2 separate regions of the Homo sapiens genome follow, and region 2 is linked to region 1. The links come from fine-mapping of genetic effects on gene expression. Tissue or cell type: whole blood. Region 1 holds a variant in brackets; the other region holds the start of a gene. All regions are shown on one strand. Distances are between the middles of the regions.

The links. PIP is the estimated chance that this variant, and not a neighbour inherited with it, causes the effect.
Region 2: HS1BP3 starts here. The variant in region 1 is fine-mapped to the expression of HS1BP3 in whole blood (TOPMed, PIP above 0.99).

What each region holds. Positions count from the first base shown.
Region 1 is chr2:20,616,690-20,621,904 of GRCh38, forward strand. HS1BP3 (HCLS1 binding protein 3) reads right to left here. Exons shown (of 7, transcript NM_022460.4): 7 at 1,129-2,556. The coding sequence ends at 2,298. Among named protein-coding and RNA genes, the nearest start is that of HS1BP3-IT1, 27 kb to the left of the region's middle. RefSeq lists enhancers at 134-1,025, 1,410-1,519. The variant G/A (reference allele first, on the strand shown) is at 2,367.
Region 2 is chr2:20,649,057-20,654,271 of GRCh38, forward strand. It overlaps HS1BP3 (HCLS1 binding protein 3), which reads right to left and starts at 2,042. Exons shown (of 7, transcript NM_022460.4): 1 at 1,976-2,042. The coding sequence starts at 2,007. LOC105373466 (a long non-coding RNA gene) reads left to right here and starts at 2,226. Exons shown (of 2, transcript XR_001739320.2): 1 at 2,226-2,296; 2 at 2,919-3,144. RefSeq lists enhancers at 1,389-1,468, 1,489-1,638, 1,723-2,460 and a silencer at 1,719-2,308.

The sequences.
Region 1 (5,215 bases):
TAAGCAGCAGCCTGGGTGACTGGGGCAGGGCAGCTTCCCTGGCTGAGTCCATTGTTTTAAAGGACAATCCTCTCCCCCTCTCCCCTCCCTGGTGGTCTGCCATCAGCCTAGGCACAGAAAAGAACATCACTAACACAGGCTGGAATGGGTCACAGGCACAGGCTTTATCAGGCGACAAGGATCATTGATTGGCCATGAGTCGCAGTCCTGTGGGTGAAGAACAAGCCACAGATACTGGAGCATCAATATCTGGGGGTCTTTGTGATGGTGTCCAGAGAGTCCAGACCACTGAGGAGGTGGCGTCCACAGTGGATGAATACACAACGGGCAGGCCAGGTTCTGCCAGTGACCCCAAGCAGAGCACCAGCCCCTGTGGCCACCTACCCCGCTGTGCCCTCTGCTCCTATGTCACTTGACCCAAAGCAGGTGGGGAGCAGGAGGCAGGGAGCCAGCATCAGGGTGCAGAAAGGGCAGGGAGGGGACAAAGCCCAGAGGAGAGCTGGAGCCACCTCTCGGAGGAAGACCTGGCCCCATCCCCTCCCCACTCCTACTGAGACCTTCCGCTGCAGTCAGCAAGGGATGCAGGGCCCGGGGCTGAGTGCTGGGAAGGAGGGGCGGGTGTGAAGGGGGAAGGCAAATGGGTGGAGCCGGTGCTGGAGCTGTCCCAGAGCTGGCTCAGAGCCCTGGGGAGGGAGCTGACCCTCTGAGCCTGGGTTAAGACGGAGGAGGAGGGAGTCAGCTCTCGACCCCAAAACCACCTGTTTCCTCTCACTCTAGCACTGGTGGAGGGGAAGCTGCTCAGGACAGGGCGCCACAGCTGGAGAGGGACGTGATCAGATGCAGGACAGAGCAGACAGGTCCTGGCACGGGCCAGGAGCTGAGACACTCAACACTGATGGCTGCAAACCACCCGCACCATCAGCCGGGGGCTCCCTCAGGGCTGGCTTTGGTGTCTATCAGAAAAGGGTCTGAGGTCCTAGTCCCACCCGCTCAATGCTTCTGCCAGGCAGGACAGGGCCAAGGAGCAATAGTGGTTGCATTTCCTTTAAAACTACTGTTTCATTAAAAAACAAAACAAAACAAAACAAAAAACTAGCTCTGAACATGAAGAATTATATCCAAGAAAGACACCTTGACATTTTTTGCTTTATTAAACATCATTCACTGAGAATTTCCAAAGCACTGTGTGGTGCCTAGACCTGTGTACCAGCGCTCTGGGGGTCGGGAGAAGTCTAAGGCACGGGCCCTGCCCTGGCGCACGGCTCCTTCTCCCTGGGAAGGCAGCTCCACTGGTGAAAGGCCACTGACCAAGTCCAGACCCTGAGGACGACGAAGGCCTCGGGGCAGAAGCCTGAGAGAATCATGCCCCACTGGCAGTGGGAGGCGGTGCAGGCTGGGAGCCCTGCCCAGGCCCCAGGCTGAGCTGTGGGGAAAGCTATGACCCAGTTTGCTGAGAGCTGCAATGACGAACATTGGCTCTGTGCCCAGAGGCCCAAGAAGGCCATGGACTGGGCTGGCCTTTCCTGGGAAAGGGGGAAGGAGGAAGAACTGGGGCCTAGCAGGGCCGTCTATACCCTGGAGAGGCAGGGCCTGACTTCTCCCTTTAGAGCTTGCATCAAGAGGAGGCTCAGGAGAGAGAGACTTGCATCAGAACACTCCAGACAGCCGATCTCCCACTCAGTATTCCTCTCCTGGGAGACCCACCCAGACCCTGCAGGCCCCTGGCAGCCACGAGGAGCAGAGGCCCTGGAGTAATTTGGCTTGGGGACGTCCCCACCCCAGGCCCAGGCCAGTCAGTCACCCAGGCTACAGCTTAGGGTAGGGGAAGGGGAGGATACCGGTCACTCCTTCTTACTATGCGAACAGAGGCAGAGGAGGGATAGAGGCCCAGCCCCAGTTTGGGTCTGTGCTGGGGCTGGCAGAACCCGTGGGCATGAAGCTTCCCTGCCCCATGTGACACCTCGCTACGGCCCCACATGTCTTGCTTCATCCTTGGGGCTGGGCTTCTGGTTGGCAAGGCATCCCCACACCCTCCCTCCCCTTCATGTCCACGGGGAATAAGACACATTGGGCTCTGGCTCCTAGGGTGAGAGCCGCTCCCGCAGCCCGCAGGCTTCTACTTTGGCCCCACAGCCCCGGAGAAAATGGAACCATGCAGTTCTGGGTGCTGTGACCCAGGCTTCTGCCTGGCCTCCCCTGGGGGTGGGGAGGTTCTGACCCTGCAGGGCCCAGTCCCTTCCCTTCACACCGATGTCCCCACAGACAGGCCTGCTGGGCCAGGGGCCAGCATGGAAGGGTCAGAAGAGGCTGGGGGCGGCCTGGGCTGGTGTATCGTGGTCCTGGATGTACTGCAAGATGTCCATCTC[G/A]TCCATGGCTTGGATCTGCTCCTGCGGCTTCTGCTGCCCAGCCACAGCTTCAGCCGGGCCCGCTTTGGGGGGAACAGCTGGTTTTCTGGGTATCACCGGCTTAGCTGCCACTGGTGGCTTGGGCTTAAGCTGGGGCTTGGGTTTGGGCTCAGCTCCCAGGTTCAGAATCTGGTCCAAGTCCTCTTCAACTCTAGGGAACCACAGGGAGGAACCCTGAGCATAACACTGCCACCCCGTGACAGGAACAAGACCCCAGGCAATGCCAGTGCCCACACGGGGCTGGGCAGCGGCAGGGAGCCCAGCCTCGGCCAGGTCAAGGCCCCGCCCTGCTCTGCCCCATTCCACTCTGGCCCCTCCACCCATCCTGCCCAGAGGAGACACGAAGGCCAGGGCTCTCCTTCCCTCCCACCCACAGCAAAGCAGGCACAGGGCAGGCCCCACGCAGCCTCCTGAGAGTTGCTCTTCAGGTGACCCCACTTGACACACGCTGCCTTCTGTAGGGGGCTTTCCCTCCAATCCCTTCAGAAATAACCACCAGCTACTATGTACAGAGTTCCCGCTCTGTACAGCACTTCAGACACGTTATCATATCTTATCCTCAAAACGCCACTCTGGGGAGGCATGACTGTGCTTCCATCACGCAGATGAGGACGCTGGAGTCCCAGGAGGCCGAGTGACCTCGAGGGGATGGTATGTGACAGTGCCTTTGTTGGAAGGAACAGGACATCGGCCCTTAGAAGCTGAGCCCTCATCCAAAGCAAGTTCAGCCAGAGAAAGAATAACCAGGGGCGCTGAGCCATGGTGGTACAGGCTTGGCCCGCCCACAGTGCCCCGCTGTGGGCCACACGGGTGCCAGACGGAACCCAGTGAGAGCTGAGGATGGCCTCGGCCAGGGCCCACCAAGACTCTGTCATGACCCCAGACCTCTAATCTCCCACTGGTGGGTGGGCAAAAAGCCCTGGCAGTGTTACGGTCACTCAGGACCATCCCTGGGTACTGAGGGCAAGAAACAGGCCAGGCCACTGATTCTCCAGAACTTGATTTCTGGAGACCAGATGCACAGTGGAAGACTCATTCAATCCATTCCACCCACTCAGCTCTGTGCTGAACACCCGTGATGGCCAGACATTTCCACATTCATTAACCCATTCAATAATCTCCAAACACTGTGTGGTCGCAGAGATTAGCCCCGTTTTACAGCTGAGAATACTGAGGTGCAGAGAGGCAAAGGGCCTTGCCCTGAGACCCACAGCTAGTGTGAGGATGAACAGGACTTGGCCTGCATGTGGCTGGTTCTCTGGGGTGTGTTCCCCTGGCTGGGGCACCTAGACTCCAGTGTCACGGCGAGGTTTTCCCTTGTGCTAACGGGCATCTCTACGTCTATCGCTCAGCCATGCTGGAATCAGGTGAGTGAAGGCAGAAGACCTGTAGCACCCACTTGGTCTCTACAAGCTTCGGCTTCCTCATCTACAAGCAGGAGTAACAGTGTCACTGGCACTGCTGCACGGAACTGTACACAGAAGCACAGCACTGCAGGAGGAGAACTGGCTTCCGTTCCTCACCCTGCAACTCCTCCATCAGGCAGCCTCAGGCCACTCCTCCTCCCTGGTCCTCAGTCTCTTCTATAAAGTGGGATTGTACTTGCTCTACCATCCTCACAGGGATTCTTACAAGGATCAAATAAGACAACACAAGGAAAGTAGTTTCCAAATGTACAGGAAGGCTGTATGTACTGATGTCTACTGACAGCCACAGGGGCTGAGCAAGTGGGCATAAGACACAGAAAAGCAGTGCCTCCACCTACAATGAGGGACACCCCCCAGCCCAGTCAGACAGGGGCCACATAATTGCAAAGGCCTGGAAAGAAGGTGTTGAAGTCCAGAGAAGGGAGTGAGCCCTTGGGCCAGAGCAGGCTGGGAAGGCCTCCTGGGAAGGTGGGTCTTTTCAGAAGGGTGAGCCTGGCATGAATAGGGGAGAGAATTCTGAAGAAGGGAGCAGACAGCAGAGGTCTGGAGGTGGGAATGAGAATGAACAGGAAGAACCAGGCAGGCTCATGAGCAGCGGCTTCTTGCCCTGGGGCAGGGCCGGGCAGGGGTGGGGATAGAGAGGCGATACCTCTGATCAGGACAACTCCTGGCACTACCAGAGAGCCTGTGTGAGTATGGAGGTGTCCAGCACAGCACCCCCAGGGGTGGATGCCTGCCTGGAGCCAGCTGTGGAAGGAGCTCCGGACACCCTGCCTGCTTCCTGGCTCAACCTCCTGTGATGGGGCACAAACCCCAGAGAGAGAATTCAGAGTCTGTTTGGATGGCAGAGAAATGAATAAAAGGTGTCCTTCTTGAACAAACCCAGAGGGACTGGCCCAAGCCGGGCCTTCATAGACAGACCAGCTGTCTTGGGGTAGAGGTGATTTCAGGAGGTGTCACTCATGGCCAGTCTGCTCCTGGCCACCTCAGGTCAGATGTTCCGGAGCTCCCTCCAAGTGGCAGCCCTTCCTTGACTCCCCCAGGGCAGGTGCCAGCTCCACTGGCATGATGCAGCCTCCATTGAAGGCTGAGGGTACCTGGGAAAAGCTCAAAGGGACTGAATTATCCTCAAATAGGGGCCCTTTGGAAAATAAAGCAGCCGCTAGAGGCTTATGTCAGATTTCAGGATTAGCCTGCTTGGCAAAGCAGTGACTCTTTGGAACTAATCAGCAGCTGGATTTGCTCCCAGGTGGGTGGTGTACACGGGTGGTCAGCCACGGTGGGAGGCAGCATAGCTGCTCTTGGGACACAGGAGGCTGCAAGGCACCCCTTTTCCAAGCACCCTATTTCTGAGTCATGACTAGGACTAGCTCTCACTAGCGC
Region 2 (5,215 bases), 32 kb after region 1:
CTGTCCTGAATGCTCAGCTCGGCCACTGCCCATGCTCAGCATAGCAGCCAAAGGATCTCTATAAACCAGAAGTTGGGCCCTATTGCACTTGAAATTAAATCTGATGGCCCCTCCACAGCCTTCTCGGCCTTTCCTGATCATCCTTCACTCCCAAGCTTGCCTCTTCACCGCATCACCTAACACTCTCCCTGGGCTCACTCCACTCCAGCATACCAGCCTCGGGACCCTGGCTCCTGCTGTCCTGTCCTCCCAGTACACACTTTTCCAAGATTTCTTTTTCATGGCTCTCTCCCTCATGGAGCTTGTCCGGGATCTGTCCAGGCGCCACTCCATCAGAAAGATGCCTCTTTACCACACCATAGAAAACAGCATGCATGCCTCCTACCACTCTGTTGCCCCCACTGTTTTGTTTTCCTTCATAGCATGTATCATCCCTGACATGTCGTAGATTTGCCCACTGGGCCTGTGCCCTCATTAAAGCTCTACGAGAGGGACTTGTTTGTCTCCTAGAACTAGGGCCAGTACCCGGTACAGAGAAGGCTCTCGATAAACACCTTCTGGCTGAATTCAAGCTTGAGTGCATGTGGCAATGACATGTGGGAGGAGATCGGGCTGGAAAGAGGAGCTGGGGTGCGACTGGGAAGGGCCGGCCTTGCTGCTGGGCTAAGGCGTTTGGACTCACCCTGCAGGCAAGATCCTTGGGTGTGCTGGTGCCCTCAGCAAGAAATGAGCCTGACTCATGTGGCCTTACCACCGCCAGCGCCCCCACATCTGTTAACAAGCCACGTCCAGGCTGTGCAGCGGGGCAGGGAGGGAAGCCACCCACCCCATCCCAAGCACCCAGCACCAAAGTCACACCCCATCCATCTGCACATGGCTGAGGGGCATATACTACTGACGTTGCTCATGCCTGCCAATCTGAAACCTCCAATTCACAGAAAAGGAAACTGAGGCTTGGTGAGAGGAGGTGACGTAAGTGGCAGTAGGGAAACCTCTTCTGCCCATGAAGATACAACTGTAACCACACTTGATCATGAAAGACCAAGCAGCCTCCGACATCAGGGTTTACAAAAGGAATCATACCTTTCTAGACCTGAAGTCACGGGGAATTCCTGATTACAACTGGAAGATCAACAGTTGGCTGGGTAACACGTTCATTTATGTCATAAATTGGCATCTTAGCCTAAGACTTTGTGTAGGGAGAGCAAGGGTGAAGTGTATGAAAATATTTGAAGTAAATCACTTTACAGCGTTTTAAAGGCGGAAAGAAGTAAAAGCACGTGCCTCCCAGCCTTGCCAGGATCCACCTTGGGCTGGGTCCTCCAGGTCTCGATCAGGGCCGACCCATTCTGCATCCTCCGCCTGGACCCCTCCAAGGCTTTTGCTGTAACTTGCGCTCTCCTGAGCTGCCTCGCAAGCAGCAACGACCTCTCCCTGGTCTCTCATCAAACTCATCCTCCCAGAAACCGGGTTCCTGCCCTGTACTGTGTTCCCATGGCAACCTGAGCTTACTACCCGCTGCTGGCATCACCCCCTCTCCGCTGCAGCCCCCTGCAGGGCGAGCTTGTCTGATTCGCCTCTGTCCCCAGTGCCCAGCACCGGGCCTGGGACTCAGGGAGCTCTGAAAGGATGGGGAACTAGATTTTCGGGCTCAAAAGAGAAGAACCCAAGGCGGTAGGAAAGGAGAGCAGAGTCCCCACTGCGCCCGCCTGCACTGAACCAGTCAGTCCCAGGGCTCCCGCTGTCCTTGGCTAGTTCTCTACCCTCCAGAGGGCCTCGGTTTCCTCATCTGTAAATCGGGGTCGCCACCTCTCCTGCAGGGCGGTGCAGGGGCCCAGCCCGGATAAGCCACCGAGGGCGCTGGGGAGACCTGCACCAGGTCCCTGGCCTAGGAGGCGGCGGCCTCCCCCCGCCTCTCCGCCCGGGCGCCCCGGACTGCGAGCTGTGCGGTGTGGGGCGCGGGGGTCTGGCTCACCTGGAGGTGACGAGCACCGCCGGGGACTGCATGACGGCGGCGGGGACTCCGGGCGGGGCGCGCAGTCACGGGACCCGGCAGTGCCCGCGTCACCGCGTCCCCGCCCTGCCTCCCGCTGCCCTGGCCTGCCCCCTGGTGGCAGCGGCCGCGCAGTTCGCGCCTGTGGCCAGAGGCGGGGCGGAAGCGCGGCTGGGCGGGTCCCGCACGGTCGCCGTCGGCCTGCGCTGCTCGGAGCTTCCGGAGCACCCAGGCTGAGCCGCGCCCGCCGCAACCACCTAGAAGAAGCCCAGCCTGGCCCTGGCACACGGTGAACCTTAATCGGTGTGTCTGTTTTGCGCTAAAGTTTAGCCGTTAGAGAGACGGGACTCTGCTGTTTCCGCCGCCAGTCCCCATTACAAAACCACTCCCCCTCTGCCCCAAGACCATTTCATTCAACCGATCGGTCAACAAATATTTACCAAGCTGGGGCTCTGTCCAGGCTTCGTGGGGTCTTCTTCAAGCTGCACAGTGAACGCCACGCAGCAGCCCAGTCCCCTTGAGCTTGCTGCCTCCAGCTAGCTCGCCTATCTGGTTCCTACTGCCTGCCCGCTCCATAAATGGCAGGCACTCTCCCGACAGGGGATCTTTAGAGAGGCAGCCTCTGCTGCTTGGCAGAGCCCTGGTGGAGGCCTCCCGGGGCCGGGCCTGCCTGGGATGGCTGCACTTGGGTCCCCAGCTGGAGCAGGGCAACGGGGTCCAGGAGCCAGTTCCCCTCAGAAGGGGAACGTACAGACATGCAGACCCTAACAGACCCACTCATTTTAGATTCACCTCTCCATGGGGTGAGGAACAGAGAGATCGTATCACCTGCCAACGTAGCCCAGGGAAAGAAAAGCTGAGTCTGCAAACAGGGCCAGCAGAAGGTGCAAACTGCTGCCCCTGTTCTGTTACTCCCTCCACCCAGAGCCCCAGTGACAAAAAGAAAGAGAAGCTGGGCTTAACTATACCAGAATTCACGGCAGGGCGATGTCAGCCATGTTTCCTGAGCCTATCAACCACCGCCACCAGCATCACCAACAATATCTACCAGTTTTTACAGATTTTAGTGAAGAAATCCTACAGTAAAAGATTTTGAAAAATGACTTTCCCCAATGTATCTCTTGAATAAATACGGACATTGATATGCCTTATTATTTGTCTCAGATTTGTTTATAGGCAAGATGAGCAATCATGAATGAAGTATGACAATGAATGAAAGTTCTGAGGGAGACCCTTGAAGGCTGCAGTGAAGAGCTGGGATGATGGCGGGAACCCCTGTCTGCTCTGCTGCTCATCGGCCTGTCCGTCTGCAGGGCCGTGTTCATGGCTGCAAATGGTCCTCCGTGTTTTGTTTAAATTGGCATGCCCTACTTTAGAGAAAGGGAGTTCAGGGTCTGGACAGAAAGCAGTATAGGCTTCAGCATTCCAGGAGTCTGAGTGTAGTGCCAGGCAGTCGAGCAGTCACCATTGCACTCACATTTATCCAACAGACAGAAACACAGTGAATAAGACACTTTAGATGCCTTCAGTGGACTTCTTTGCCCTCCTACATGGGGAGTGGGTGGGGGTCTGGAAAGGCTTTCTAAAGGAGCTGAAGTCCAAGGGAAAACCTGAAGAAATATGGATAGAATAGATTAGAAGGAATGTCACGTGCAAAGCCCTAGCGACAGGATAGGAACACCAGGGAACAGGGGGAAGAGGCCAGCAGGAGCCAGGGTGTGGACAGCCTAGTGCACCAAGGCCAGGGCTTTGCCTGATCCTGAGGCCAACACAGCGCCATCAGAGGGTCAGGGACATAGGAGTGGCTGGGCCAGCTAGGGCGTGGGCAGGGTTTTGGAGCATGTTGAAGGTATGAAGATGAGCTGGACTGCAGAACAATCCAGACAAGAGACAATGGTCCCATGAACTAGGGTGATGGCCACCCAGGTGGAGAAGAGGGGACGGGTAAGAGGGCCTTAGGAGAAGGAGTTGGTCAAGACTTGGGAATCCAATGGGTGTGGGCGGGAAGAGATAAGATACCACTATGGTTTGGCTCTTGTGAGTGGCTGGACATTGGTATCATTCTCTGTGGCAGGGCACCTGGAGAAGGAGCATATTTTTGGTAGGATGATGGGTTCTGTTTCAGACAGGCAGTGTTTGAAGGGCTGGACCTATTGATGCGATTGGGTTTATGGCCCTGGGCCTCAGGAAGCCGACCTGGGCTGGAGACTGACATAGGAGTCATGGGTAAAAAGGAGGCTGTTGAGCCTGAGAGTTGGGGTGAGCCCACCAAGGATGGTCTACAATCCAGAGATATGCAGCGGTGTTGGGGGGCTGCAGAGAAGGGGACTCTCCATCATTGTGGGAGCTGGTAGCATGTCTGTCACCAATGCCTTGTAAGCAAATGAGAGGGCCTCACCTGTGCCCCTGGGGTTGTGAAGTGTGCACCTCAGGAAGACTCGGCCCACCTGTCAAGAATGCAACTGGTTTCCCATGAAAGAACGACCCCATTCCCAACAGCAATCCCATTTTCTGCCTCTGTGGGTCCCACGTGCCCCTCTATGGCTCCAGCGCGTAATTGTATACAATGCATGGAATGTGGGATCTAAATCTGATATTTTCTGCTTCCTGTTTAATTCAAGGAGCCCCTTCCATGGCTGAAGCTGCGGTAACACAAACCACATTGCAAAGGATTTTCTATTTCTCTCTTTCTCACTGCCCTGGGAGGAACACTCCAGGCCTCAGTTTCCACCCAGGAAGTCACTGGGCCTCAGGACACTGTGGTCACTGAGAGACACCCGCAGCCTGCAGGGGGTGCTCTGAACTCTGGCTGAGCCATGCACCAACGTTTCCCATGGTGGCTCGGGTCTTCTGGGACCTTATAATTTGTCTCTGTTCCCTAATGTGATACTTTAGAGCTCCAGGGTCTGGGCACATCCACATGGAGCAGGGCCACCACCTTGCTTGTCACTCAGCAAACACTCATAGGTACAGCTCCAGGCCTGTTATCTCCCCAGGCCTGGGGGCTACAGAGCCTTATCCTGTGGGGCTCACAGCCCACTGCAGGGGCTCACAGGCCACTCTAGGACAGCTGGAGATTTCAACAAGGATGCACGCCTAGGGTGCTATGGTGCACAGAGGAGGGCACATAACTAACTCAGCCTAGGGTTGGGCATACAAAGAATTCTGCCAGGAGGAGGTGATGGCAGACCTGGGTTGTAAAAAGTAGGTATTATTTTTTTG